Homo sapiens: one gene and its partner. The protein of the gene in region 2 interacts with the protein of the main gene of each other region in a pairwise test. Each region holds a gene or a part of one and is shown on either strand. Other genes may lie near its edges.

The links. The genes of interacting proteins can lie anywhere in the genome.
Region 1: the proteins of HPCAL4 (region 2) and AQP4 interact in binary tests that used the Homo sapiens proteins (3 or more experiments, as listed by UniProt).

The regions. Positions count from the first base shown.
Region 1 is NC_000018.10:26,855,708-26,859,459, forward strand, and holds part of AQP4 (aquaporin-4), read right to left. Parts: intron 783-3,752; coding exon 504-782; coding exon of another isoform or gene 417-503; 3' UTR 1-416. UniProt on the Homo sapiens protein: Forms a water-specific channel. Plays an important role in brain water homeostasis. It is involved in glymphatic solute transport and is required for a normal rate of water exchange across the blood brain interface.
Region 2 is NC_000001.11:39,677,845-39,681,634, reverse strand, and holds the end of HPCAL4 (hippocalcin-like protein 4), read left to right. Parts: 3' UTR 1-2,987; downstream 2,988-3,790. UniProt on the Homo sapiens protein: May be involved in the calcium-dependent regulation of rhodopsin phosphorylation.

The sequences.
Region 1 (3,752 bases), on a different chromosome or scaffold from region 2:
AGTCTATGCATAAGGGATTGCTCATAAAAGAACTTGTTATATTTTCTCTCTTGAATGTGCATGACTGTGACATACTGTATTTTGCCATTGTTAAACTCAGTTTAATAGAATAAATATTCAAATAAGAATTGACTATACCAATATTCCAGTAGAGAAGGAATAAGCTGATAGACGTGTCTTTGAGTTCTGTCAGGCAAGACTTAACCAAATCTTGACACACGGTTAAAATTGGTTGTTAATGAAAGGTAACTAGATAAAATAGGTATATATTTGCTTAAGAACATTTTAAAAATATTTCTTTTTTTAGATTTGGAATTCACAATAGGTTTCTTCCGTTCCTCCTTTGTAAATTATGAAATATTTATTGTTTAGACTGAGTAATATGACATGAAACAACAAACCTGCACATTTCTAATTTATAACAAATCTGTTTCCTTAATGGGTGGAAGGAAATCTGAGGACAGTTCTAAGGAGTCTTGTCTGCTTTCAGTGCGATCTTCTAGTCATACTGAAGACAATACCTCTCCAGATTGGTCTTTCCCCTTCTTCTCCTCTCCCCGGTCAACGTCAATCACATGCACCACTCCAGGTTTTAGAATCAGGTCATCCGTCTCTACCTGACTCCTGTTGTCCTCCACCTCCATGTAGCTTCCTTTTGTTTGCTGGGCAGCTTTGCTGAAGGCTTCTTTAAAACGACGTTTGAATTCAACATCTGGACAGAAGACATACTCATAAAGGCCACCAGCGAGGACAGCTCCTATGATGGGCCCAACCCAATATATCTAAGGAAAAGATGGAAGAGGATAGAGTGTAAGTAGAGAAAAGCTATTCCATTGAGCAGCTCATGAATGTAGAATCTAGCTGGGTTAAATTAAGAGTGTATTTGTGTCATGCATCAAAAAGAGGGGAATTGGAGAGGAAATAAGAAAACACACCAAAGCCTCATCAGAGATCCATAAATTATTAAACTGCATTTGAACAGAAAACAAAAAGAACTGTTTCATCTCCTATCCTCTTTTCATTAATTATGTTCTTTCCATCTTATGATAATCGTTAATGTAAAGATAGATCCTCTTTGGTGGTACTACAAATTAAGCGCACTAAGAATTCTTTAACTAAAATAAAAAAAAAATTTCTGGAGAGTCCTTCTCTTATTTTCTCAATATTGCCATTTTACACTGGTTTCCTGCACAATCATGATCATAACACAGTTTTTATCTTTTGGGGATTCCGTTATTCAGGTAAGCATGATCAAAACCAACCCAGCTCCACCACTTAGCAGAGTTATGAGTGCTTGTATCAGTTACGTAACTTTCCAAGTCTTAATTTCCTCATCTGTAAAGTGGGGATTATAATAATACAAACCTCACGGGGTAAAAGGATTAAATGCAACAATACTTGTAAAGTACTTGATAGTTTTTAGCTCGTAGTAATCTGCTCCATTCCAGGCTTCCAAAATTTGGTGATTTGATTTAAATGAAAACCTCGTGTTCATTACTGTGCAGATAGCTTTCATCTATGCGGTTCTCACGATGGCTTGGTGAAAAAATATGAGTTTATGGCTAGTTGAGAAGTAGCAATTCCATAGGATTTCAATAAATGGAAATTATTATTATTATTATTATTATTATTAATTTTGAGACGGAGTCTTGCTCTGTCACCTAGGCTGGAGTGCAGTGGGCGATCGCCACTCACTGCAAGCTCTGCCTCCCGGGTTCACGCCATTCTCCTGCCTCAGCCTCCTGAGTAGCTGGGACTACAGGTGCCCGCCACCACGCCTGGCTAATTTTTTGTATTTTTAGTAGAGATGGGGTTTCACTGTGTTAGCCAGGATGGTCTCAATCTCCTGACCTCGTGATCCACCTGCCTCAGCCTCCCAAAGTGCTGGGATTACAGGTGTGAGCCACCGTGCCCAGCCGGAAATTATTATTACATATTAGCTATGCCCCTAGAATAAAGTTTTGAGTTTGAATGAAGTGCAGACATTTGCTTTAGAGCACATGTGTGCTGTAGAATATTAGACATTTATTTAACAGACGCACTTGGGCAACAGAAACCCTGCTTGTTGAGCACTGTCCCCGGGCCAGCCGTACTTGGCACTTTTCTTGTATAATCTCATTTAATTCTAACAATAACCAATGAGATAAATATTATTATTCTTCCCATTTTATGAAAAGAAGAGTGACACTCTGAGAGGGTAATAAGCTTGCTTAAGATTTTGTGCTTATCAAATGGTTGAGCTGAGATTTCAGACCTGTCTGACTTCAAACCTCTCATTTGAGGCTGGGCACAGTGGCTCACACCTGTAATCCCAGCACTTTAAGAGGCCAAGGTGGGTGGATTGCTTGAGCCCAGGAGTTCGATTCAGCCTGAGCAACATGGTGAAACCCTGTCTCTACAAAATACAAAAAAAAATTAGCTGGGCTTGGTGGTGTGCACCTGTAGTCCCAGCTACTTGGGAGGCTGAGATAGGAGGATCACTTGAGCCCAGGGAGGTCTCGGCTGCAGTGAGCCATGATCGTGACACTCTACTCCAGCCTGGGCAACAGAGTAAGACCCTGTCTCAAAAAAAAGAAAAAAACAAACAAACAAAATGAAAACCTCTCTTTTGAAACACTGTTCCAAACACTGCAGTATACTGTTTTCCACTGTACTACACACTCATTTGAAAAAAAACATGATGGATGCTTTTTGTTTAAAACACCCTCTGCAAATTAATCTCAGTTTGCATCCTCATTGTAAGATTTAAATAAAATTCAAAATTTAAGCTGAGGCTGAAGACATAACATTTACGGGGAAACTGTTGCTAGTGTGGCTGGAAGAATCAAGTTCCTCTCTTGAACATGAAAAAACCCATATGAGCCTTTATCTTCTCTATGCCCTTTTAAAGGAGAAATGAGAGCCCTCCTCTAAATGTCTTTGCTCTTTGTTAGTAAGGTCTCATTAGACATGTACTATTCCACAGGCTACAAATCCCACAAGGGAGACTAGAACAGCAAAATAATTACTACCCTTTCCAAAACATCTGTGAATAAGATACCCAGCTGCATGTTCTCAAAAATAAACAAATCTCAGTGTCAAGTTGCTATTTCAAAATGAAGTCATATGTACTTTAAAGTAAAGAATCTTTATTGCTAAAAATCTAGAAAATGTGTAAAAGTATAAAGAAAACTAAAATAATATCATTACACTATACAAAAAACCCAATTAATATTTTAATGTTATTCCTAATCTTTCTACCTACAAATATACTTTAAATTAGTTCTAAATTTCATACAACCATTGCTATTTTTAGTAGAATTAAGATTGGTATAATATAACATGGGGCAACTTTTAGTTTAATCAACAAGCTAAGAATGTTCCTACTATTTAAATCTTAACTAGTTTACTGCAACTGACAAGTAATTAGTAAAATATATTTTTTCATCTACATTTTCAAGTGCTTATAAATTTAACTAAAAGTTGTTAATGACAAAATAGTTTCAATTTAATATGTTGAACTGAAAGTTGTATTTTCATTGTAAGATCAGGGCTGGGCACTGTGGCTCACGCCTGTAATCCCAGCACTTTGGGAGGCTGAGGCAGGTGGATCACCTAAGGTCAGGAGTTCGAGACTAGCCTGGCCAACATGGTGAAACCCTGTCTCTATGAAAAAATACAAAAATTAGCTGAGTGTGGTGGCATGCACCTGTAATCCCAGCTACTCGGGAGGCTGAGGTTGGAGAATCTCTTCAACCCAGGAGAAGGAGGTT
Region 2 (3,790 bases):
TTTCAAGGGGAAAAAACCTGAGAAGAAAGGGAGAAAAGACCATGAAATTTACCAGATAACACTTTTTAAGACTAAGTCCTGAGCTGCCACTCTCAGCAGTTTTTGCTGCTTCAGCTCTTCCTTTTTATTACCTTTTTCAATTCAACAAGCAACTTTCTGCTACATACTTACTCCGGTTGGGTGCTGACTTCAGGGACAGGAAAAAGCAAGGTTTGCAAAGAGTGAAACTAGTGTATATTCCGTATCTTGGTAGTTCGTTTCTGGATTGGGTTTAGTTTCAGAACTGGACTTGTTCCTTCACTGCCACAGAATCAGAAAGAGCTAGAAGAAAAGGCTCACCTGGCCACTGTTTAGGCACCCAGACATAATTTATGGACGAAATGCCTAAAAATGTGCCAGGCATGCTCTGTTTGAGAGGCTTTTTCTAACCCCAAATCTTAGATCTGCCAGGTAGTTCAACATCTTCCAAGTGTGCTGGTTCTGCTTTCCAATGCCTGCTTCCCAATTTTGGATCCATGAGCTATACAGCTGCATGCTTTGACTGCCGGAAAAATTAATCTTGCTTCTTCATCAGGTCTTTCTCCTGTACTTGTGATCAGAAATTACCTTTGACGTGCAGTGACAGTTGATTTCCTCTTGAACTGCCGGTGAAAACAGTCTAGTACACAGGTGCTGTCAGCCCAGGGTGGGAGCAGGAAATGATTGCTGAGCCCGGGGCAGGGGAATTGCATCTGCAGGAAAGAGATGCAGCATGCTCCTCACTCCTGAGTGCCCACCTGTCCTGCTTCTCTGCAGGTGAAAACTCTGGGGGATGCTGATCAATAGAGCTTGGTCCCAAGCTCTACTGGGCCCTTGGAGGTAGCAAGGCCACTGGGTTGCTATCCTCTTGCTGGGGATAGCAACCACTGGTTTGCAACCACTGGGTTGCTATCCTTTTGCTATCCTCTTGCTCATGACCAGCCATATGGTGAGGCTGGGGAGTTCACATCCTCAGGCAGGAACTAGCAGTTGTTTATCCAGCAATGCCTCAAGGATGTTGCATTGCTCCCAGGAACTGGCTATTAGGTATGTCTTGTGCGGTCAGTCAGCATCACAGACACATAGATGCTCACCAGCCTGGCTTAGCTGGGACCTAAATCTTCTGGTGAAAAGCTTTTCACTAAGTGAGGTTCCTTCCCTGCAAATGCTGAATCTAGCCTAATTCGCAACCACACAGAATTTCATGGCTTTCAAAGGCTTGCCATGTGCCCCATCTCATTCTATACTCACATCCCATGGAGGTGAGGATTTTCACTTCTTTTCTCTAGACTTGGAAGCTGAGATTCAGAGAGGAAGCATCCCTTGTGCAAGATCACATAGTCAGGAGGTGACACAGGGCTAAGACTTGAACCAAGGCTCTAAGAGGATTTCTTCTTTTCAGAGTCTCTTCCCTGTCCATTTCTGTGACTAAGCTGTGCAGAGGTTGACAGCAGGGCAAGTTACATTGATATTCATCCTTTATAGGCTTCCTGCTAAAAAGCTTCTGAGATTGTGGTCTTCCAAAAAAAATAGGAGCTTGGTTGAAGTCCCCACATTTTCAAGCACTCAGTGTTCTGCCTCTGGCAGCTGTGCTAACAGCTCAGTGCTGTCCTGGGAGTCCTCTGACTCAGAACCCTCGAAGCATCCTGCATTGTCTTTACCCACCATCATCTTCACTAAGAGAAACATGCCTACCCATGAAGGCGTGTTTGATTACTCCAGGCTTCTGGACACACATACCCATGGGTGATTTTTGCTCCTCAGGCCCAATATTCTCAGACAGCCCAGCAGTGTGAACACACAATGCCAGGCCAGGAACTGGGACCACCATCTTGCTGATGGAAGGAACAACAGGTGGCCCAGGACATGCTCCTGCATACTCCTGGGTGTCCCAGGGACTGTGTGCTCAGGAGCACTGTGGTAGAGCACTGGCCCTGCCTTGAGAAGAGACACAGGTCTCCCGTCCCTGCACCAGCTGAGAGAGACTTGCCGCAAAGCACAAGGCTGGCAGAGATTTATGTATGACTTGCACAGACACAAAAATATACAGACAATCAAAACATTGATATATTCAAACTCTCCTTTAAATTCCAATCTTATTGCAACAACTCTGTGAATTGCAAGGTCCCAGAATCTGCCTTCTCACATACTCTACCCTCATTCATCCTTTTGGGCTAATTGATGAGCATCTTATTTCTTATCTCTAAAAATTATCAGCAAAGGCTACTTCAGATGGCCACTTTAGTCCTTTCAGCTGTAGTCAGGATTATTTAACTTACCTGTATATCAAAAGTGAAGAAAAAGTTAGTTCATAAGTAAAGGCACTAAATCCTTTCCTGACAATGGCAGAGTCTCTAGAGGTAGAAATTTGCCTTGCTGCAGAGAGAGAAGGAATGGCGTGGGATGGGGGAAAGAAAAGAAAGAGAAGAAGCTGGGGTCTCCAGGCAGGGTAGTAAGCTGACACTAAATATTTTTTACACAAAAATGTATTGAAGCAACAAATATTTCCTGAAGATCCACCCTGGGTGAGGCTTTGAGCTGACTTTAGAGATCACTGTGGGGTCAAGAATGTCTTACATGTTTTATTCATCATTCTTGAAAAAAGAAATAATTCAAACCTTGGAATTAAAAAGTCAGAAAAATATGGGATTTTCTTTCTGGAATTTTCGAGGTTTTCTTTTTACCTTTGCCAGAGTGTGGGGGCAGGACTGGGCCTGCCAGGGTGTATAGCCCTTCCTGCTTGGTGGAGGCCAGTCAGGCCCAGGGCCTTCTAAGCAGCAGTAGAAAGGAGGCTTGGGGAAGTGGGGGGTCTGGGTAGCAGGGGAAGGAGGCCAGTTCCAGTGTAGCCCCCTATCCCCTCCAGATGTGCTGCTTCTGGCTGTGCACTCAGTGACTGCCCTCACTGCTCAACCCTGTGCTGTGTGGTGTGTTTCTTTCCCCACTGACAGTGAATAAAAGGTGCAACTGTGCTGAGGGCTCCTGCTCTTCCCTACACTGGGACAGGATTGGGGTGGGGAGAAAGGGACAGAAGAGGCCTGGGGAGGCTCACTCAGTGAAGGGCCAAGGTCCTTGTTCTAGCAAGGACTCTGGGAACATGGCATGAGACTCACTTGAGCTAGTTCAAAGAAATGGGGGAGCAGATTATAAGGGACTCTGAAGATGGAAAATCAAGAATGACTGAACCTCAGGCCAAGCGCAGAGGCTCACACCTGTAATCCCAGTACTTTGGGAGGCCAAGGGGCAGATCACAAGGTCGAGATCGAGACCATCCTGGCCAACATACTAATAATACAAAAATTAGCTGGGCATGGTGGTGCACGCCTATAGTCCCAGCTATTCGGGAGGCTGAGGCAGGAAAATTGCTTGAACCCAGGAGGCTGAGGTTGCAGTGAGCAGCGGAGGTTGCAGTGAGCCGAGATCGCACCACTGCACTCCAGCCTGGTGACAGAGCAAGACTCCATCTCAAAAAAAATAAAAAAATAAAAATAAAAATAAAATAAAAACTGGCTGAACCTCAAGAGAACTGGAACTGGCAACTGGGCCTCTTCCTTACCATCTCTGGGTCTTGCAGGCTCTTGTTCCCTGGGCAGTATTTGCATCCATGCTCTTTTCCTGGGCTTCTCTTCAGACTTCTTTGGTTTTGTTGCACACAGTGGCTGAATCTCCAACTCGGTATCAAGACTCACCAGTGACTGACAACTCCCCTCTGTGCCTCTTAGTTTCAATTCACAAGCAAAAGGATCTGATTGGTTTGGCTTAGCTTTTGGCGGGA